3 linked regions of the Homo sapiens genome follow. The protein of the gene in region 1 purifies or fractionates together with the protein of each later gene. This does not show direct contact. Each region holds a gene or a part of one and is shown on either strand. Other genes may lie near its edges.

Region 1 (7,387 bases):
TGTTGGCCAGAGTCCCTCACACTCAGCACGCCCACGTCCCCCCTCTCCTGCATTACATCAGCAATACCCTTCTGATTTGTCTCCCTGCTTCCTGTCTCTCCCTCCCCCAATACAGTCTCCAGACTGCAACCACAGTAATCTCATTAAGATGAAATCTGATTACCTTACTCCACCTCTTAAAAAGGCTCCCCTCTCGGCCAGGCTCAGTGGCTCACGCCTGTAATCCCAGCACTTTGGGAGGCCGAGGTGGGTGGATCACCTGAGGTCAGGAGTTCGAGACCAGCCTGGCCAACATGGCGAAACCCCGTCTCTACTAAAAGTACAAAAATTAGCCTGGCATGGTGGTGGACACCTGTAATCCCAGCTACTTGGGAGGCTGAGACAGGAGAATCGCTTGAACCCGGGGGGCGGAGGTTGCAGTGAGCTGGGATTGCGCCACTTCACTCCAGCCTGGTCGAAAGAGCGAAACACCGTCTCAAAAAAAAAAAAAAGGCTCCCCTCTCCATTGCCCTCTAGATCTAGTCAGTAGCACTCTGCTTCCCCCACAAGCTGCTTCTTTTTCCTCTCTGTCCTGGACGATATGGCCAACTGATCCCCTCCTACAATTCCTTTAACTTAGCCATCCCCACCCCACCCACTCGCTTTTGGTCCTTGGGAATTGTGTTTGCATCCAACACCGCCAGCATGCTACTTCTCCTCCCCCACATTCCTGGGTGTGAACTGCAGAGGCCAAAGTGAGCTGGTCTACGGGGATGCACATTTCCTTTTTGAGACCCAGGAGGACAGGGTTATCTATTGTCGAGCCTGCCCCATTTTGCCCTAGACTAGAGGAGACCTGATTTACACTCAGAGCCTAGAGGAGAGTCCTGTAGTCTCTCTTTGGATTTGAGACAGAGAAAGAGAGTGCCTGCTTCCACAGGGTGAGGGATTTCTCCTGGCTACCTCTGGGAGTACAAGTTCTGCTTGCTGAGCCTGGTATTTAAGCCATTTTTGCCAGTTCCCAAATGACTCCAGAGTCTATAATTTACAGAACTCATTCAAAAGGCAAATGGACATGAGTTTTGCCTTACTTTTTATTATTTGGCTGGGGGAAAAAAAACAAGAACAAATATTCTTGTCCTACTGGGCATTACTCCCCCTATTAATGTTAATAATTCAGAGCTGGTTTCGAAGCTCCTTGGGGGCTTTTACCCGTGACCTGAATATTATTTACTACAACCTGCCTGGCATATACCAAAATTCACCATGGGCAGGTAATTGTAACTATGAAGAAGAAAAGGCCCGGCACGGTGGCTCAGGCCTGTAATCTCAGCACTTTGGGAGGGCGAGGCGGGCGTATCACCTGAGGTCAGGAGTTTGAGACCAGCCTGGCCAACATGGTGAAACTCTGTCTCTACTAAAAATACAAAATTAGCCGGGCATGGTGGCGTATGCCTGTAATCCCAGCTACTCAGGAGGCGGAGACGGGAGAATCGCTTGAACCCGGGAGGCAGAGGTTGCAGTGACCCAAGATCGCACCAGTGCACTCTAGCCTGGGCAATGAGAGCGAACCTCTTTCTCAAAAAAACAAAAAAACAAACAAAAAAAAAAGGAGAAGAAGAAGAAGAAAAGTGAAAATTGTCCATAAATTCTACCACTCCAAGATAAACTGGTAACATTTTGGCATATTTCCTCCCAGTTATTTTGTCTCCATATGTATTTTTTTAATAGCTCATATTATGTGATCTTGGGCCTTCTTTTCCCACTGTACTCTCTTGTTTGGTGGTTTCATTCATTCTGATGGCTTTTATTACATCTCTGAGATGATAATTTAGCACAGATCTATGCTCTGAGCTTCAGATTTTTCTGCCCCTATATCCCAAACTTGCTCCTCTGAAACCATTTTGGTAAATGACTGTTACCATCTGTCCCACTAATACCAGATACTTGGAGTCATCCATAATGATTTTCTTTTTCCGCAATTCTTCCCCACCCCTTTCCCATCTGTCTTAGTCCATTCCTGCTACTATAACAAAATACCATAAACTGGCTGGCTTATAAACAACAGAAATTTATTTCTCACATTTTTGTAGGCTGGGAAGTCCAAGATAAAGACGCCAGCATATTCAGTGTCTGGTGAGGGCCCACCACCACCAGTTTTCTGGTTCATATAAGTGGCACCTCACTGTGTTCTCACATGGTGGACAGGGGCCTCTTTTATAAAAGTGTTAATCCCATTCATGAGGACCCTACCCTTTTGTGACCTAATCTTCTCCCCAAATCCCCGCCTCCTAATGCCATCACCTTGGGTATTAGGATTTCAACATATGAATTTGGGGGAGGACACAAACATTTAGACCATAGCACCATTAAACACGATACCTATCATATTCATCTAACAATTGTTCTTTCCTCCCCGTGTCCACTGCCGCCACCCTGATTCAAGCCACCATCCTCTCTTTCTGGTCTGCTCCCACAGCCCTATTAGTGTCCTTTTTCCCACACTTACCCCCTACAGTCATTTAATGGGCTCAAAGGTCCTGCCAATCTTGGCTCCCTCATTTCATGCCCCTCATATTCTTGTCACCTGGCCCTCTTTCTGTCCCTTGATATATGCCAAGCTCTTCCTCTCTACTTTGTGTTTACTATTCTCTTCTTTTCCTGAAGGTTTTTCCCTCAGCTGTTCCCATAGCTAGTTTCTTTTCTTCCTTCAGCTCTGATCTCCAAAGTCACCTCTTCACATAGACCTTCCCTGATGTTTTAATCAAATTTGTTCTCCCTAATATTGTCCATCAAAGCAACTAGTTTATTTCCTCCCTGGCATTAATCACAACATGCCATTCTTTTGTTAATTGTATTCAATTTCTTTAAGAAAAAAATTAAAAAATTTTTTGGTTTCCCCCCTCAACAAGTAGGATGGGCAGATGAAATATAGAATGCTCAGTTAAATTTGAATTTCCGATAAACAGCGAATTTTTAAAATATGAGATTTGGGACATACTATACTAAAAAAAGTATTCGTTATCTGAAATTTAAACTTAACTGGGCGTCCCTTTTTTTTTTTTTAGACGAAGTCTCGCTCTGTTGCCAGGCTGGAGTGCAGTGGTATGATCTTGGCTCACTGCAACCGCCGCCTCCTGGGTTCAAGCAATTCTCCTGCCTCAGCCTCCCGAGTAGCTGGGACTACAGGCACACGCCGCCACGCCCGGCTAATTTTTTTATTTTTTATTTTTATTTTAGTAGAGACGGGGTTTCACCATGTTGCCCAGGCTGGTCTCAAACCCCTGAGCTCAGGCAATCTGCCCGCCTCGGCCTCCCAAAGTGCTAGGATTACAGGCATGAGCCACCGCGCCCCGGCCGCGTCCCATATTTTTATTTAAAATTTTTTAACAGCTTCGCAGAATAAATTAGCGTCCCGCATTTTCTTTTTTATTTTGAGACGGAGTCTCGCTCTGTCGCCTGCCCAGGCTGGAGTGCGGTGGCGCAGTCTTGGCTCACTGCAACCTCCGCCTCCCGGATTCTCCTGCCTCAGCCTCCCGAGTAGCTGGGACTACAGGCGCGTGCCACCACGCCTGGGTAATTTTTTGTATTTTTAAAAAGAGACGGGGTTTCACCGTGTTAGCCAGGATGGTCTCCATCTCCTGACTTCGTGATCCACCGACCTTGGCCTCCCAAAGTGCTGGGATTACAGGCGTGAGCCACTGCACCCGGCCTGGTATTTTCATTTATTAAATCCGGCATCCTTACCCACAGGCCTGACTCTTGTCTTTTCCCTGGAGTTGTATTTTCCTGGCCTAGCCCAGAGCCCACCATTTACAAGGTGCTCAGTAATTGTTCTATATGAATGTACTATCTGCATGCTGTTTTGTACGTTTTTTACTCATCTGAAATTTACATGTATTTATCAGAAATTCCCACACTCACTAAAAACACTTGTTAAAGACAATTTTTGAAAATATATTATATTGCCAAAACTTCTTTGTTTTCCGTTTCTGCAAAATTGGTATAGTAGGAGTATCTACCCTCATCACATTTTGACAATTAGAAGAGTTAATGGAAAAGTAAAAGTAAAGTTTTGCACCGTGCCCGGCCCACTAGGACGCTCAATAAACTTCAGTTCTTTATTAAAGGAAGCCTGTGCACCATTTTAGCGTAAAGCAAAAAAAGCGCGTTTGTAAAGAACGGGTGGGGGTAGAGAAAACGGTTAGAAAGGTCTGTCGACCCAACACCGAGGGCCCGGGAAAAAGGGAGGAGAGAAGGGTGAATGACAGAGGAGCCAGCCAATGGGGAGACTGGGAACTACTTCCCCCCTCCCTTTGCGTTTCAAATTCTAAGCTCCGTTTCCATCCGGGTCCTTCAGCCTCGTTCCCGGGCAGTATAAAGTTTGCTGTCTCCTTTGTTCGCCCTCGTTGCGCAGTAGTGCTAGCGGCTTCGCGGTTCGGTCCTCGCACCCGGCAGCCGCCACTGGTGCTGAGCTGCTAGGAAGCCCCTATCGCCGAGCTCGTTGGAGCTTGAACCCATTGTCACCCCTCCGGTACGTGTCTCCTTTCCTCAGTCCGTTTTTCGTGACACTCTCCCCGTGTTAGGACTGGGGATTATATCTCCCTGGAGATGGGGGTGGCGGGCGCCATTTTAAGAACCCAAAGGTTCCGACCTATTTAAATAAAGCTGAGGGGGTCGAGGGAAAACAAATGAGGGGGCCCGTTTGGTTGTATGCTTCTCGAGAAAGTTTGGCTGCCATCTGCGGGAGTTGGTAGCGGAGGTCGGGGCTTTGTAGGCTGGAGCGGGGCGAGGAGCGACCGCACCACGGCGATACCTGCATTGGTATGGCGCTGGCGCTAATGATGGGCATGTGGACTTCCATGCGGGCTGCGGGCTTCGTATTCATTGGCGGCCCCGGAGAAGAAGCCCTCTGAATGTTCCCAGCCAATGTTGGTGGTAAAAGTTAGTCCCCTGACCAGTGTCGGTGGTTCTGGGTTGAATCCAAGTGTCGCCATTTTGTCTTTTACACGCGGTTTTTAATGACGAGTTTTAATTAGGTTCCGCTGCAGTCACGGAGTGTCGAGTGTTAGTGTGTGCGTCCGCGTTCCGTTACTTAATAGCAAACGATGTTGACGATTTGTTTTTATCTTTTTGGCCGGATAGTAGAATTTTCGGTAGGGCGGGGGCCGGTGAAGAAGAGGGGCGGCATAACTTGGCTTAAACTTCACATTTCTCCTTGGATTTAGTAGGGAATCCTAATGAGGAAAAGAGGAGTCGTTGGAAGAGGGCTTGGTGTTAAGGTCCTGTGTCTAGCCTGTGACCTTGGGAGTCTTTTAAAACCATCGTTAGGAAGGGTGTGATGAGTAATTGAATCTTTCAAAGGCAAGAGGACTGGAACTAAAAGTTGCTTTTTCAAATGTTAAGCAGCTGTTGCTTAAGAACAGCTAAGGGTGATCAAGGGTAGTGGTAAAAGTTAAGTTGGCCCTTTTAACCAGTTTTATGTAAATTGCAGTGTTACTAAACTACTTAGTTCAAATTGCTTCCTACTGTGGCTGAGGCTTAGCTCGTTATCGTTTTCTTTAGTTATTAAGGAACAATGGTTTTAGTGGAAAATATGAGAAATGTGCGAAAGTAAAAGTGTCCAATAAACTTGAGGAACTTTTTGCAGTGAGGTAATACTATTCCTTTTCAACAGACTCACCGGCCCAAAAAAAAAAAAACATGGTTGAAGCAGATCGCCCAGGAAAGCTCTTCATTGGTGGGCTTAATACGGAAACAAATGAGAAAGCTCTTGAAGCAGTATTTGGCAAATATGGACGAATAGTGGAAGGTGAGTTGTCTGGCAGTACAGGCTGGGCTATTATAATTAAAATATAAGCTATGATGAATTTGATTGCATTGATCGTCTGACATGATAATGTATTTTTGTCCTCTAAGAAGTTCTGAGCTTTCTGTTTACACATTTACTTTGGTTATTTCATTTGACCTAGGGTAACACTTTATTTTTCTGAAAACTACTTTTTAGTACTCTTGATGAAAGACCGTGAAACCAACAAATCAAGAGGATTTGCTTTTGTCACCTTTGAAAGCCCAGCAGACGCTAAGGATGCAGCCAGAGACATGAATGGAAAGGTGAGATTGTCTACACGATGGATGATAACCTGTTACTAGTGCATAAAATAACATGTAGTTGTCCAAGTCTGGTCTAGGACAGCTTTTGAGTTTTCGTTGTTTTTCAGTATATACCTGTCTGGGATCCACTCATCCTGTTTGTGATCCTGTTCCAAAGAGTATTCTGTAATTGCAGAACCAAATCTAGTAGTGAGTTATATCTTATGCTCGTAACATTCTCTCAGTTCAGAATAATTATGGCATTACATGGTACTTTTTTTTTTTTTTTTTTGATAGTCTCCCTCCGTTGCCTAGCCTGGAGTGCAATGGTGCAGTGCCCACTGCAGCCTGTCTCCCGAGTTCTAAGCGATTTTTCTGCCTCAGCCCCCCCCCCCCCCCCCAGTAGCTGGGATTACAGGCATGCGCGACCACGCCCGGCTAACTTTGTATTTTTAGTAGAGACAGGGTTTCACCATGTTGGCCAGGCTGGTCTCAAACTCCTGACTTCAGGTGATCCAGCTGCCTCCGCCTCCCAAAGTACTGGGATTACAGGTGTGAGACACTGCGAGCCACTGCGCCCAGCCAACATGATACATTTTATCTTGAGATCCATAAGCCATATTTTGATAACTTGGCTTTTGGTTTTGGCTACTAGTTTTGATAACAAGCTGATACCTACTTGGCCTTGTTTTAAATTTTACCATACAATAATGCAGTGGGTTCACCTTATGTTTCAATCCAGATCATCAGTATCGGTTTTAAGTATTAAGAATTTTAAGCGGAAAAGCCCCATTTATGTAAACTGACTATATTTGCAGTGTTTTTTCTTAGACTAATGAGCAACACTTACCCATAACTGCATTTTGAAGGACCAGTTAGTGTCTTAGTGCATAGTAGATGTGCAAATTATTTTTAAATCTTGATTTAATTTAATCGTATCTTTTTTTTTAGTCATTAGATGGAAAAGCCATCAAGGTGGAACAAGCCACCAAACCATCATTTGAAAGTGGTAGACGTGGACCGCCTCCACCTCCAAGAAGTAGAGGCCCTCCAAGAGGTCTTAGAGGTGGAAGAGGAGGAAGTGGAGGAACCAGGGGACCTCCCTCACGGGGAGGACACATGGGTAATAACTTGCGTGGACCTCGGGTTTGGTGTATAAGTTAGGGACTGCAAGCTCACACCAAGTGGATGCTTTGGTTAAGTCCTTGAGGAAAGGTGCCAACTTTTGAAATTGACAACACTTGTTCATCTACCAAAGTGATTGCCAATTGAAAGCATGGGAAGCATGTTTTAGATTATGGTGTTAAACCGTGGA
Region 2 (6,828 bases), on another chromosome or scaffold:
CACTAGACACCAACAGTATGAATGCTCCCACCTACCATGCCCCAGATCCGACAACCAAAAATACCTCCAGATAATGTGAAATGTCCTCTGGGGAGTACAATCACTCTCAATTGAGAACCACTGCTCTAACTGAAGCTGTGAATCTTAACCTTTGGTTAGTATCTGCATCACCTGAGAAACTGGTAAAAATATAAAGGCCCAGACTAGATTCTAGTTCAAAAATCCAGGGTCTCCACGATCTTACTAGCTTTTTCACAACACAACGAAGTTTTAGAACCATTGTTCCTAAGAAATCAGATAATAAAGTATGGGCAGCACATCATCAAGGAACAAGTTAGAAATGCAAATTTGAAAGCTCCACCCCAGGTTTAGTGAATCCGGAACTCTGAGATGGAAGTCAGTTAATTATTTAAGGAAAAAGTACATTCTTGGCACACTCTGTGAGAAGTTCAGGAGTATAAGAGACTCGTGGATGACTGTCTGTTCCAACATTGAGTAAGTACCACTGGGACAGCATGACCTGGAATCAGCTTCTTGGCACTGCATGGCTCTTATTACCATAAGGTCATGAACTTTTTGTCCTGATCCAGCCTTAAAAAGCAGATCAGATTGGCTTTCCTGGGAGGGAATATCTGGGGGATTACACAAAACCCTACCTATTCTCCAAACCCTACCTACTCATGAATTCTACACAGCACCTGGAACCCCAACTCATAGACTTATTCTTTGGGCTGTGGCATTAGCTGTAGACCTGTGGTTCTCAACCTTGGCTTCGTATTATAATCACCTGGGAAACTTCTAAAAATCCCATCGCTCAGGTCATATCCCAGACCAATAAATCAGAATCTTTCAGAGCAGAAGCCAGACACTTCTTAGGTGATTCTAATGTTCAAGCAAATTTGAGTTGTCAATGAATAGTTTCTCTCAAGTCAGGCAGAGATTGTACGTAAGGTAGTAATACAAGGCATATTACTTACTTACTACTTGTAGTAAGATATAAGAAATAAGGTAGTAGGACATACAAGAGGCTTGAAAGAACCTGGCCAATTTGGCAATCAGTAGGATGTGGTTGCATTCTATAGGCTATTGACTGTGTGCTAATGCCAATTATTTCCCTAAGTCTTTTTAGATCCTTCTAGCCAGAAGCTATCTTTGTAACCTCTGTGTTCCCAGAGCTCTTTTTTCTTTCTTCTTCTTTTTTTTTTTTCTTTTTGTTTTTTGAGACTGAGTCTCACTCTGTGGCTCAGGCTGGAGTACAATGGCGCGATCTTGGCTGACTGCAACCTCTGCATCCCGGGTTCAAGTGATTCTCCTGCCTCAGCCTCCTGAGTAGCTGGGATTAAATGTGCCTGCCACCACGCCCAGTTGATTTTTGTATTTTCAGTAGAGACGGAATTTCACCATGTTGGCCAAGCTGGTCTCCAACTCCTGAGCTCAGGTGATCCACCTGCCTCGGCCTCCCAAAGTGCTGGGATCACAAGTGTGAGCCACTGCGCCCGGCCAACACTTTCAATCTAATCTAACACGTACCACATTCTACCTTGTATTATAGCTGTATACATTATATATATCAAATTTGTTTCCTATACAGTACTGTGAGCTTCCCAAAGGTAAGAATCCTGACTTATCTTCTCTTTCACCTAGAATATTTACTTTAAGAGTAGGCATCAAAAATTGTTAATTTAATTGAAATATATTAAATGATGTAGAAATGTCACCAAATGTACAAATAGAATGTAGCAAGGTATCCTGGCACTTTGCCCTCAGTCCCACAGCAGGAGTTCCTATCCTGATGTGCTTCAAAACCTTCCACAAGTGGACTGATAACCCTGGACTAGACTCCAAAATCTTTATCTGAAAACAGACAATCTCTAGAGAAAAAGTCTGGGCAGATGACTGATGTGCTAATTCTGGAACACTGACCATCCAAGGCATTCAATATACATTCAGCTCCAAACTGGAGCTTTTTCATCAGTGATATGAGCCGAATTAGTAACGTTTGGTGGGAAAAAAAAAGAGCATGATTCATCAGTGTCTCTTGGAATTACACAGCCAGGGCTGTTCATGGCCTGAGTGGTCAAACCTAACAAAATGAATGAAGGAATCAGCATGAATCTCTGGCAAGCCCCTCAGCGTAGTGGTGATTCCACATAAAAGCCTTCTTCGGAAAAATCATAGCAACTAGATACATGCGTGAGTCTTTTTCCCATTGCCTGTCCCTCTGCTCACCATTGCAGGGGCTGAAAGACTGATGAGATTCTCACAGGCACTAGAAGACCACAGAAATGCCTCCAGGAGGCAGGCTGGGATCCAGGGTCCAACCAATATTCTTGTGAGAGTGTGAAGCCAAGGAACACGAAAGAGGGGAACACCTTGGCTAAGAATGTATTCGTGACAGAGGAGAAGGGGAGGAACAGGAAGCCTCCAGCTAGTCGTTTGGAATCTGGCAACCATTTCTGTCAGCTTTCTCATTCCTAGATTGATGCAGATTGCTTAATTCCTTGAGGTAAGGGATATACTAAATTGCCTCTTTGTTCAACTCTTAGAATAAGAATTTCCCTCTCCTCTCCCGTCCCCTCCCCTCCCCTCCTCTCCTCTCTTTTCTTTTTCTTTGTTTTTTTTGTTTTTGAGACGGAGTCTCACTCTGTCACCCAGGCTGCATGATCTCAGCTCACTGCAACCTTCACCTCCCAGGTTCAAGCAATTATCCTGCCTCAGCCTCCTGAGTAGCTGGGTCTGCAGGCACGTGCCACCACGCCCAGCTAATTTTTGTATTTTTAGTAGAGACGGGGTTTTGCCATGGTGGCCAGGCTGGTCTCGAACTCCTGACCTCAGGTGATCCACCCGCCTTGGCCTCCCAAAGTGCTGGGATTACAGGGGTGAGCCACTGCACCTGGCCCACAGCAAGAATTTTTTTCTGAATAGCATTTTACGTGTTAGGCGTCTGGCTGTTTAGGAGATGAGGAAACTGAGGCCCTCAGTTGCCAAGGTCACACAGCTGGTAAACGGACGGAGCCAGAATGCGAGTACAGCTCCTCCTGCCTCCAAAGGTTCTCTGGGCCCTGTAAAACCACGGGCTGCACAGGAAAGGCAGGCTATATATTGTTCTTCCCCTGGCCCAGCGCCCTGATCCAATGCCCGGACACACATCCACACCAAGTTGGACGAAAAGGTAAGGGAGAAACCTTCCCCAAGAGAAGAAGCGGTAAGCTTTGGTTCTAAAGGCCCTGGGTTGGGTCCGTCCTTTGCCACTTCTCAGCTCTATGCATTTAGGCAAATCACTTATCTTCTTAAACCTCCGCATCTGGGCCTACAGGGCCTCTATGGGTTTTTTTTCTATTTATTTATTTATTTATTCTTTTTTTTTTTAACTTTACGTTCCGGGATACACGTGCAGAATGCGCAGATTTGTTGCGTAGGTACACATGGCATCTACGGTTTGATTCAGTCTGAAATGGCGCTCCAGGCTTCATTTAGAAGGTGAAGCACTCTGCAAACTGCGAGGCCATACAGAGATTCCAGAATATGATTAAGGCCCTAACCTTGCTAAGCTGGATTTTCTTTATTTCCCAAAAAGAAGACTAATACTATCCACTTGTACAACCAGAAGGGAGCTCACGTGTAAAGCGCCTCGTCCCCGGCCGGCCTCAAGCGGCGCTAGCTCTCTGGCTGGCGCTGGAGTGTGCCGCCCCTGGCAGCCCCGCCGCTGCAGCGGGGAGCCTGGGAGAGCGGCTCTCGGAGTCTCAGGCAGCAGGAGGAGCGTGTGAGCTGTGGGCGTCCCTTTAAGAGCGGCTGGCCAGGCACGGCCTCCGCCTCTCAGTACGCGGAGCGCCGGCGGTCACCTGGGGCTCGCGGAGCGGCCAGATCGCGGCGGAGTCGGCGCGCTTCCCCGAGGGAAGGTGGGAGAGGGGACCCGGACGCGAGGTGCCCCGAAGCCCTCTCGAGCGTAACCGTCCCGCGCCTCTCTGAGGCGGAGGATGCGGGAGCGCATCTGGGCGCCGCCGCTGCTGCTGCTGCTGCCGCTGCTACTGCCGCCGCCACTGTGGGGCGGCCCCCCGGACAGCCCACGCCGGGAGCTGGAGCTGGAGCCCGGGCCTCTGCAGCCCTTCGACCTGCTCTACGCCAGCGGCGCGGCCGCCTACTACAGCGGAGACTACGAGCGAGCGGTGCGCGACTTGGAAGCGGCGCTGCGCAGCCACCGGCGCCTGCGGGAAATCCGCACGCGCTGTGCCCGCCACTGCGCGGCGCGCCACCCGCTCCCGCCCCCGCCCCCCGGCGAGGGCCCCGGCGCTGAGCTGCCCCTTTTCCGCTCCTTGTTGGGGCGGGCGCGCTGTTATCGCAGCTGTGAGACCCAGCGCCTCGGGGGCCCCGCATCCCGCCACCGCGTCAGCGAGGATGTGCGCAGCGACTTCCAGCGCAGAGTGCCCTACAACTACCTGCAGCGGGCCTACATCAAGGTACCCACAGAGCGCTCCTCCACTGCAAAGCCCCTGCGGCTCTCACACGCTCTCTTGAGCCCTCCCTGCTGCCCCCGTCATCTCTGTTCAGTCTTTCGAATTGGGTCTCCTTAAATATGTGTCTCAGTTTGTGAATCCAGATATCTGGTGGCCCTATCTCTGTATGCAACAATTGATTAACTTGGACAAGTCTTTTTCTCTCTTTCTCAGAGCCAGCTTCTCTCTCAAAAAGAGGACTGTCCTGATAAGGTGATGTTTAAAGTACCCATTCAGCACTAATTCATGAGGCATTGACAAAGCTGAATCTAGTACAATTTATCTTCTCCCTTCTCACTTCCCATTTCTCTTCTCCCTTCTCACTTCCCATTTCTCTTCTCCCTTCTCACTTCCCATTTCTTTTGTCTCCTCTCTCTTATCCTTCCTATACTGTAGTCTGCACCTTTTCTCTGAAGTTTAAAAGAATCTTCAAAATAGTGAAGTTGAAAGACCTGTTCCAAAACAAATTTCTCTCTCTTCTCCCCTTCACCTACAAAAAAGTAAAGATCAAAGGTTAAAGAGAAGGTATGCTTGGAGGAGGCGAAGCTGTTTGAGGCAGTCTCAGTCAAAGTATCCACCCTAAGTGTTGACTTTTTCTCCTTTGATAGAGGGCTTACGTTTTCTGGTGGTATGCATTGGACTGGGTTACTAGGCATCAGTCCTCTCTTTCTAGTTTTATTTTTGTATGCCTAACTTGCCTAAAGTTAGCGTCAGGAGGTATAGTATGCATATTGACATATTGTTCACATCCATAACTTTGAAGATCTCTCTGGATGCTTCAGCAGAGGGAATTTGAATGAGTTCTTCAACCTCCACTGCCACTCACCCAATTTTCCTTCAAATTGACACTCTTAACCCTTCTTTCTCGTTTTCTGTGTTAATATATCAATGTATCTTCTACAGCTACCGGAAAAGTGGAAGCTTTGGGGTTGGTTGTTCATGCTAGCCAATGGACCAGGCTGCTCTGCTCTGCTCTGCTCTGCTGTGCTCTGCTTTGCTTTCTTTTCTCCTCTCCTCTCCCCTCCTCTCCTCTCCTCTCCTCTCCCCTCCCCTCCCCTCCCCTCCCCTCCCCTCCCCTCTCCTCTCCTCTCTTCCTTTTCTTTTCTTTTTTTGACGGAGTTTTGCTCTTGTCACCCAGGCTGGAGTGCAGTGGTGCAATCTGGGCTCACTGCAACCTCCGCCTCCCGGGCTCAAACGATTCTCCTGCCTCAGCCTCCTGAGTAGCTGGGATTACAGGTGTGCACCACCATGCCGGGCTAATTTTTGTGTGTGTTTGTGTATTTTTAGTAGCGAAGGGGTTTCACCATGTTGGCCAGGCTGGTCTCGAACTCCTGACCTCAGGTGACCCGTCCGTCTCCGCCTCCAAAAGTGCTGGGATTATAGGCGTGAGCACGGCTGGACCAGGCTGTGTTTCTAAGGAGATGAAAGTACATACCATGTTCAAATATCCAAATGCCTTTTGCAGCTCATCCCACAAGATCTCTGCCCTCATCTGTGGTAGGGTTCTCTCAGATTGGCAACTGTTGGTGGAGTGCACGAAATTTCAACTAAGTATAAATCTTAACTTCCTTGTGTTGTGGCTAAGGTGTTGGAGTTCACTGGACTAGTATCTTGGGCAAGAAATGAGGAGAAAGTCTGAATCCTTTCCAGGACTTGTCTTCTGCTTGCTTGTGCCTCCTGATTGCTAAGGCATGTATGAAGTATAACTCTAATTTCTTCTAAGTGATTTACACAATTTCTGGTGGTCTTACAGAAATCAGTCAACACCAGGCAGAGAGGGGACCTTGAGTGTCTGACGGTGAAGTTATCATAAGCTAGTTCCCAGAGCAGAACATGGGTGGTCCCTGTAGCTTGGTCCTCCCAGGAGTCTCGGATGTAAGGTTAGCAGTCCTGCTGTTAATTCTGTCACAAATTTTGGACATATTTTCCTTTCTCATATCTGGAGAAAGAATACATAGTCAAGGTCAGTCCTATAAAAACAAATAACCATGAGGTAACTCTCAATATGTGGGTTTCCCTGGTTCTGGAATTCTGCTTGCTTCACTGTTAATGTCAGCATTTGTCAGTCATTTCCCCTCCGGTTCCCTGGTTGGAGGTCAAAGAAGGTGAAGCCATAGGTTTAACATACCTCAAATTTTTGTGGTGAATTGATTACAGGAACAAGTCACACTCTGTAAGTGAATTACTGGGTGTTGTCTGATGAATTAATGAAGTTTAAGAAGTTCTTTCAAAGATCCGTGGCTTCGTGTGTTCATTTCAGTTCTACCAGCAATATTTCTGAGAGCAGAACAAGTCTTGCGTCTTCTCCCTACTTCTCTTCTCTGGCAGTTTCTTG
Region 3 (8,003 bases), on another chromosome or scaffold:
TTCACAAATTTCCAAAATGGGCTTATATAACTCTCCACCCTTTTCTTTCTTTTTTTTTTTCTTTTAGAGACAGGGTCTCATTCTGCTGCCCAGGCTGAAGTGCAGTGGTGCAATTATAGCTCACTGTACCCTTGAACTCCTGGGCTCAAGGGATCCCCCCATCTCAGCCTCTTAAAGTGCTGGGATTACAGGTGTCAGCCACTGCTCCTGGCTCGCCACCAATGCTTTTCATTCTGATCATTTCTGTAGTGAGCAGCATAGAAGAAATAATGCCTTTTGAGGGACAGTTGCATTTAACAGACAGCCTTACTAAGGTGAGTACGTCAGGACAAAGATGCGGGAAGGAGAATCAGGCTATTAGTCCATTGTTGCAAATTGCAACGAATTGAGAAAGTCAGACACAACGATCAACTGCAGTGAAACATTTGGTGGGGAGTTTTGAGAGTCCAGTCTGAAGGAGTGCGTGGAAGGATCACGGTCCCTGTGATGTACCCTCTCTCGGCTTGTTGCTTTGGGCAGGAATCACAAGTTAGGAAGGAATCAGCACCAGAAATGCAGAGCTGGCTGGGCGCAGTGGCTCACGCCTGTAATCCCAGCACTTTGGGAGGCCGAGGCGGGAAGATCACCTGAGGCCAAGAGTTCGAGATCAGCCTCGCCAACATGGCGAAGCCCTGTCTCTGATAAAAAATACAAAAATTAGCTTGGTGTGGTGGCGCATGCCTGTAGTCTTAACTACTTGGGAGACTGAGGCGGGAGAATCACTTGAACCTAGGAGGCGGAGGTTGCAGTGAGCAGAGATCACGCCATTGCACTTCAGCTTGGGAGACATCCCAAGACCATCTTAAAAAAAAAAAAAGGAGGGGGGGTGCCGGGCGCGGTGGCTCACGCCTATAATCCCGGCACTTTGGGAGGCCAAGGCGAGCGAATCACGAGGTCAGGAGATTGAGACCATCCTGGCTAACACGGTGAAACCTCATCTCTACTAAAAATACAAAACATTAGCTGAGCCAGGTGGCAGGTGCCTGTATTCCCAGCTACTCCGGAGGCTGAGGCAGGAGAATGGCGTGAACCTTGGAGGTGGAGCTTGCAGTGAGCCGAGATTGCACCATTGCACTCCAGCCTAAAAAAAAAAAAAAAAAAAAAAAAAGCTTGCATTGAGCCGAGATGCCAAGATCACGCCACTGCACTCCAGCCTGGGCCACAGAGGGAGACTCTGTCTCAAAAAAAAAAAAAAAAAAAAAAAAAAAAAGGCCGAGAGCGGTGGCTCACGCCTGTAATCCCAGCACTTTGGGAGGCCGAGGTGGGCAGATCACCTGAGGTCAGGAGTTCGAGACATGCCTGACCAACATGGTGAAACCCCATCTCTACTAAAAATACAAAATTAGCTGGGCGTGGTGGCACATGCCTGTAATCCCTGCTACTTGGGATGCTGAGACAGGAGAATCGATTGAACCTGGGAGGCGGAGGTTGTAATAAGCCGAGATCGCACCATTGCACTCCAGCCTGGGCAGCAAGAGCGAGACTCCGTCTCAAAAAAAAAAAAAAAAGAAATGCAGAGCTGAAGAGCAGCCCAATGTAAATGGTCCCATTAGAGAGGAACTCTTTCATCATGGACATCTGTAAGTGACCCACACTGTCCAGCAGCATCCACGATGTTTGCACAGCATATGGCCCCAGGGAGGGATGTCTCTAATCTGCCAGGGTCCTAGAGTTAAAGTCCTGTGTGTTGAGTGGAGCAATTTTGCCCATTTTTTTAGTTTGGCAGAATTCATGCTGACACTGAAACAGCTCACAGCAGACAGCATCAGGTTTCAGCATTTTTTTTTCTCTTTTTTTAAGACAGGGTCTCACTCTGTCACCGAGGCTGGAGTGCAGTGGTGCGATCATAGCTCATTGCAGCCTCGACCTCTTGGGCTCAAGCAACCGTCCCCTTGCAGAGCTTTCAGCTTGGGATCAGGTTTGGAAAACTAGAATTCGTGAATTCAGGATTTTCTTCTGCAGTAGCTAAGCCAAGAGACTGTTTGTCTCGAGGCTAAGAGCGAAGCGAGGCTTTCTTAAGCCCTTTAAGTCTGTCAGTTTCAGAGCCCGGGTGGACGCCTGTAAAAAGATCCCTATCAGCTAGAAAATCATGACTCTAAGGGTCAGCTGTGTGGTTTCACAAGGGCTCATTAGCAACTAAAAACTGCTTTTTAAAACCCTGAAAGTGTATCTCCATTTAGAGATTGCCTCTTTTTCATGTTTTTTTCCAGAAGCTGTAATATTAGCAAACACTATAGTAAGAACTATCAGTAACTGAGACTTGTTCCATTTTATTTACTTACTTACTTACTTATTTCTTTATTTTGAGACAGGGTCTCATTCTGTCGCCCAGGCTGGAGCGCAGTGGCACAATCTCGCATTGCAACCTCCACCTCCTGGGTTCAAGTGATTCTCCTGCCTCAGCCTCCCAAGTAGCTGGGTGGGATTACAGGCACACACCACCACACCCAGCTAATTTTTTTTTTTTTTTTGAGACAGAGTCTTACTCTGTTGCTCAGGCTGGAGTGCAGTGGCATGATCTCGGCTCACTGCAACCTCCACCTCCTGGGTTCAAGCAATTCTCCTGTCTCAGCCTCCCAAGTAGATGGGACTACAGGTGCCTGCCACCATGCCCAGCTAATTTTTGTATTTTTAGTAGAGACGGTGTTTCACCATATTGGTCAGGCTGGTCTCAAACTCCTGACCTCAGGTGACCCACCCGCCTCAGCCTCCTAAAGTGCTAGGATTATAGGCATGAGCCACTGCATCCAGGCTAATTTTTGTATTTTTAGTAGAGATAGGGTTTCACCATGTTGGCCAGGCTGGTCTCGAACACCTAACCTCAAGTGATCCTCCCTCCTCGGCCTCCCAAAGTGCTAGGATTACAGGTGTGAGCCACTGGGCCCTGCCTTATCTATTTTTGATACAAGTTCTCACCCTGTTCCCCAGGCTAGAGTGCAGTGGCGTGATCATAGCTCACTGCAACCTTTAACTCCTGGACTCAAGTGATCCTCCCACCTCAGCCTCCTGAGTGGCTGGGGACTACAGGTGCTCACTACCAGGCCCAGCTAGGTGAATGCTTTTCTGCACACCAGGGTATTTTCAAGGATGCGTCCTATGAACCCATCTGATCAGTGAGCTTCTTGAGCAAGGCCTCTGGAACCCACCTCTGCATGGTCGGGCATGAAGAACAGAGACAGTCACACCCAGCCACTGCTGATCTGTTATCCAGTGGAGCCCAGCCTGAACAGAGAGCATCAGGGAGGGGACTCTGGATACTGGGCCCTGCAGGCTTGCCTCCCTGCTCTCTGCCCAGACATGTGAATGGCATCTAGGGGTGCACCCAGCATGGGACTGAGACCTACAGTGTTGGGGACAGAGTTCCTACCTCTAGATGCCTGCCAGCCTTTGCAACCCACTGCTGTTGACACACTTCCTTGAGTTAGTAAACATTGGCCTTTGTGCTTAGCATATAAGCCAGGGCAGGCTCCAGGAGTGGGGGTTTGAGTTGGCCACAGCAATCAAAGTGACAAGATGTTCCTGCTGGCCTGGAGGGGATAGGCAGGCTACACAGAGCTCTTCTCCTCCATGGGAACCTTCTGGGCCTGTGAGATCCACCCTGGGCCACCTCCACTCAAGTTTTCCCAGTTGGATATTTATTTATTTATTTGAGATGGAGTCTCACTCTGTCACCCAGGCTGGAGGGCAGTGGCATGATCACTGCTCACTGCAATCTCTGCCTCCTTGGTTCAAGTGATCCTCCTGCCTCAGTCCCCTGAGTAGCTGGGACTACAGACGTGCACCACCGTGCCCAGCTAATGTTTGTATTTTTAGTAGAGATGAGGTTTTACCATGTTGCCAGGCTGGTCTCAAACTCCTGGCCTCAAGTGATCCTCCCTCCTTGGCCTCCCAAAGTGCTGGGATTACAGGCGTGAGCCACCACCCCCGGCCCCCAGTTGGAAATTTAGACTTAAGGAGCTGAGGTGGACACTGGGAGCACACTGGGCAGGCCCAGGACAGGCAGAATAAGGGGGTGGGACCACCTTGCCTGCCTCCTGAATGGCCCAGAAAATAGAGAAAAGGAGGGAGAAGTGGTCTGCACTGGTGCAATGAGATCCAACTTCAGAATCAAACAGGCCAGAGTTTGGGGCTCTGCTCTTACCAGTTCCATGACCTGGGAGACATGTGTTCACCTCTCCAGGCCTCAGTTTCCCCATCTGATGGGGATATCAATATCTCCCATTTGTATAGAGGGCAATCTAGCAATTTAAAGTGTGGGTCCTGGAGTTAGAATAGCCCGGTTCATGTTCCAGTTCTTCCCTGCCGCTTGCTGACCTCATGGCCTAGGAATGTTCTCTGTCCCAATGAATTATAACCAACACTGAGAGTGTCCTGTGTGCCAGGTCCTGTTCCAAAGAGCGTGCTTATCTCCTTTAATCCCCACCACACTATTCTCATTCCTGTTTTACAAATGAGGCTCAAAGGGATATGGTGATTTTCCCAAGTCACACTGTATGTAACAGAGCCAGGATGCAAACCTTCTCCTGCCGTGCCTCTCAGAGCTATGGAATACAACGCTGTGACGCAAACAGGACTTTGGGGCCAGTCTCCAAATGCCCCCTCAAATTTCCTCTAGGCAAGAGTTCTGGAGCCGCCACTGCACTCCAGCCGGCCTTGGCTTCTGAGCTTTGGATTCTGGGCAGTAATGGTCACATTCCCAGCGTCCTGGAAAAGCTTGCCCTTGGCTTCTGGCCCTGACTCTGCCTCCCACTGACTAGTGGACGTCACTGCCCCTCTCTGGGCCTGGCAACACCATCCTGTTCAATGAGGCTGCGGCTGGATCAGAGGTCCCCAGGCCTGGAACCTTCCAGGGCTGGGCTCAGCTCCCCACCCCATCCCCCAGGTAGGCCAGGAGGCCTGGGCGGGACCTGCTTGGGGTTAAATACTCCGGCCCAGCACTCCCCAGGCCTCTAGTCCCAGTAGGAGGTTTGACTAAGATCAATCATGGTAAGTGCCATGGCCATCTCCCCTTGGGTGGGACATCTTCAGTAACGCTTCCAGAAGCACCTTGTGTTGGAACCTCCAAGTCTCACTGTCCTTCTTTTTCTCCTTAGACGACTTACAGTGACAAAGGGGCAAAGGTAAGCAGGCGAAATGTGGGAAATGTAGGGGCCTGAGTCTAGAAGGGGGTCGGAGTGCAGGGAGACTGGGGTTTCAGCAGAGAGCAGAAGAGGAAGGACTGGAGTGGATACATGACGTGCATGCCTGCACACTCAGCTTTACCCCCGGGGCTCCCCGAGACTGAGCTGGACTCAACCTCACCCTCACAACAAACTTGTATCCTGGCCGGGCATGGTGGCTCATGCCTGTAATCCCAGTGCTTTGGGAGGCCAAGGCAGGCAAATACTTGAGGTCAGGAGTTCGAGACCAGCCTGGTCAACATGAGGAAACCCCGTCTCTACTAAAAATACGAAAATTAGCCGGGCATGGTAGCGCACCCCTGTAATCCCAGCTACTCAGGAGGCTAAGGTGGGGGAGATCACTTGAACCCTAGGATCGCTTGAACCTGGGAGGCGGAAGTTGCAGTGAGCCAAGATTGCACCACTGCACTCCACTCCAGCCTGGGCAATAGAGCAAAACTCCATCTCAGAAACAAAAACCAAAACAAAACCTGTACCCCTTCTCAAATGCCTGCCAATCTTTTAATCCCATCTGGAAGTTCTTTCTAAGGTCTAACTTAAATCCATATTGCTGCAACATAAGTCTATTTCCCTGTGTGAAACCTTGGCAGGCCTCCTGAGGGGGTTTCCCCATCCAAGACACCCAGGAGCTCAACTTCCACATGAGAAACCTCTTTTGAGGCTTGGCAAGGCTGCATGGGGTTCCGCTGCTCCTAAGTTCTGTGGTTGAGGCTGGAATAAGGAGGGTGGCTAGGGGACATCACTCCACCCGCACTTTTCTAGACTCACTTTCAGGGACTCAACCTCACCTCTTCTCTCCTTCTGCAGCCTGAGAGAGGCCGATTCCTCCACTTCCACTCTGTGACCTTCTGGGTTGGCAACGCCAAGCAGGTAGAAGCCGGGGCAAGGTGCTGGAGTGAGCAGACGGCAGGGCAGAGGGCTGCCTGACAAGGGCAGGCCTCCAGCAGGGTCTGTGATTGGCCCTTGGGAGGGAGGATCAGGCCAGGGGTGGGCCAGATACTCTGAATCCTAATTACACCAGCGGGAAAGTTATCTGTCAGCAAAATGTGCAGGCAGCAGTCTATCTTCCCAGGAGGGTCTCTGCCCCTGAGGCAATAGGGCAGGCAGGCTGAGGGGGGCCAGGGGCTCTCTTGCGGAAGTCCCCCATGCTGGCCCCTTGACCCTCATGAACCCTGCTGCAACCCTGTGATTCAGGCCACGTCATTCTACTGCAGCAAGATGGGCTTTGAACCTCTAGCCTACAGGGGCCTGGAGACCGGTTCCCGGGAGGTGGTCAGCCATGTAATCAAACAAGGGAAGGTGAGTCACCACCCCCAGGACAGCCCCCAACCCCTGCCTGGCCAACATGGTGAAACCCCATCTCTATTAAAAATAGAAAAATTAGCTGGGCATGATGGTGGGCACCTGTAATCCCAGCTACTCAGGAGGCTGAGGCAGGCACATCGCTTGAACCCGGGAGGCAGAGGTTGCAGTGAGCCAACGTCGTGCCACTGCACTCCAGCCTGGGCGACAGAGCAAGACTCCATCTCAACAAAAAAAAACAAAAAACAACAAAAAACCCCAACAACAACAACAAAAACATATAATTCAGCTCCCACCGACCCCTCCGCTGGCATCTTTGTACAGCCATGCAACACGGCCCTTCCTAGTTTCGTTTCCTCCTCAGCCTGGCCCAACACTGACCCCACAGGTGCTCAGAAAACCTGGGATATCAGAGGAGAGGAATTTTAAGCAGTGCCCTGACCGATGGGGTCCCTGGAGTTCTCTCCCCGAGGGAGACCTGACCTAGCAGTTCCTCTGAGGATCCAGAGGGGGTCTGGCTGAAAGCCCCATCCCTCAGGACCAGTGTGGGAAACTAAGGCAGAGAAGGAGCTAGAACCCAGGTCCAGGAGTTCTTGTGCTCCATCAGGGGTGTTTCGGGTCGGCAGGGAGGGGCCGATGGGTGCACCTCCCCATGCCCCCCTGAGCCACTAGCCTCACCTCCTTCTCCTCCTATCTTAGATTGTGTTTGTCCTCTCCTCAGCGCTCAACCCCTGGAACAAAGGTGAGGTGCCCGGGGAGGGTGGACGCATGGCTCTGTGGGTGGGATCTGGGTTCTGGGAGGGTGGACGCATGGCTCCGTGGGTGGGCTCTGGGTTCAGGGCCTGGATGGAGACTAAAAGCCAGGTGAGGGGACCTAGACTCCAGACTCCAGTGCCATCCTCTCCCTGCCGGCCACAGAGATGGGCGATCACCTGGTGAAACACGGTGACGGAGTGAAGGACATTGCGTTCGAGGTGGAAGATTGTGACTACATCGTGCAGGTAAGAAAGCACCTGGGTGGACTGAGAGAGGAAGGCCTCCGTCTGCCATGGGGACCCCATCAGTCAGGGCTGGAAGGACACTGCTGCATCACAGTGACAAGCCCAGATGCCACATCACAGTGACAAGCTCAGATGCTGCATCACAGTGACAAGCCCAGATGCTGCATCACAGTGACAAGCCCAGATGCTGGTGTGACACACACCTGGGCTCCGGGGGTGCCCTGCCTTCCCCCGTGTCCTCTCTCTCACTGAGCCTCAGTTTCCACAGCTGCCAGATGGGGCTAACCACAGCTGGGTTGTCAAAGGAGGAAATTAGAATTACCATTTCCTTTTTTTTTTTTTTTTTTTTTTGTGAGACGGAGTTTTGCTCTTGTTGCCCAGGTTGGAGTGCAATGGCACGATCTCGGCTCACCGCAACTTCTGCCTCCTGGATTCAAGCAATTCTCCTGCCTCAGCCTCCTAAGTAGCTAGGATTACAGGC

Evidence for each region. The genes of interacting proteins can lie anywhere in the genome.
Region 2: the proteins of RBMX (region 1) and P3H2 purify together in Homo sapiens (affinity purification with mass spectrometry; 3 studies listed by BioGRID and IntAct, with this or other methods). This does not show direct contact.
Region 3: the proteins of RBMX (region 1) and HPD purify together in Homo sapiens (affinity purification with mass spectrometry; 3 studies listed by BioGRID and IntAct, with this or other methods). This does not show direct contact.

What each region holds. Positions count from the first base shown.
Region 1 is NC_000023.11:136,877,723-136,885,109, reverse strand, and holds the start of RBMX (RNA-binding motif protein, X chromosome), read left to right. Parts: upstream 1-4,384; 5' UTR 4,385-4,513; intron 4,514-5,656; 5' UTR 5,657-5,682; coding exon 5,683-5,791; intron 5,792-5,838; exon of another isoform or gene 5,839-5,911; intron 5,912-5,951; exon of another isoform or gene 5,952-5,986; coding exon 5,987-6,093; intron 6,094-7,023; coding exon 7,024-7,195; intron 7,196-7,387.
Region 2 is NC_000003.12:190,117,881-190,124,708, reverse strand, and holds the start of P3H2 (prolyl 3-hydroxylase 2 isoform a precursor), read left to right. Parts: upstream 1-3,811; 5' UTR 3,812-3,977; coding exon 3,978-4,457; intron 4,458-6,828. UniProt on the Homo sapiens protein: Prolyl 3-hydroxylase that catalyzes the post-translational formation of 3-hydroxyproline on collagens. Contributes to proline 3-hydroxylation of collagen COL4A1 and COL1A1 in tendons, the eye sclera and in the eye lens capsule.
Region 3 is NC_000012.12:121,855,843-121,863,845, reverse strand, and holds the start of HPD (4-hydroxyphenylpyruvate dioxygenase), read left to right. Parts: upstream 1-4,986; 5' UTR 4,987-5,022; coding exon 5,023-5,025; intron 5,026-5,132; coding exon 5,133-5,159; intron 5,160-6,007; exon of another isoform or gene 6,008-6,026; coding exon 6,027-6,089; exon of another isoform or gene 6,090-6,227; intron 6,228-6,413; coding exon 6,414-6,518; intron 6,519-7,199; exon of another isoform or gene 7,200-7,220; coding exon 7,221-7,263; exon of another isoform or gene 7,264-7,439; coding exon 7,440-7,522; exon of another isoform or gene 7,523-7,593; intron 7,594-8,003. UniProt on the Homo sapiens protein: Catalyzes the conversion of 4-hydroxyphenylpyruvic acid to homogentisic acid, one of the steps in tyrosine catabolism.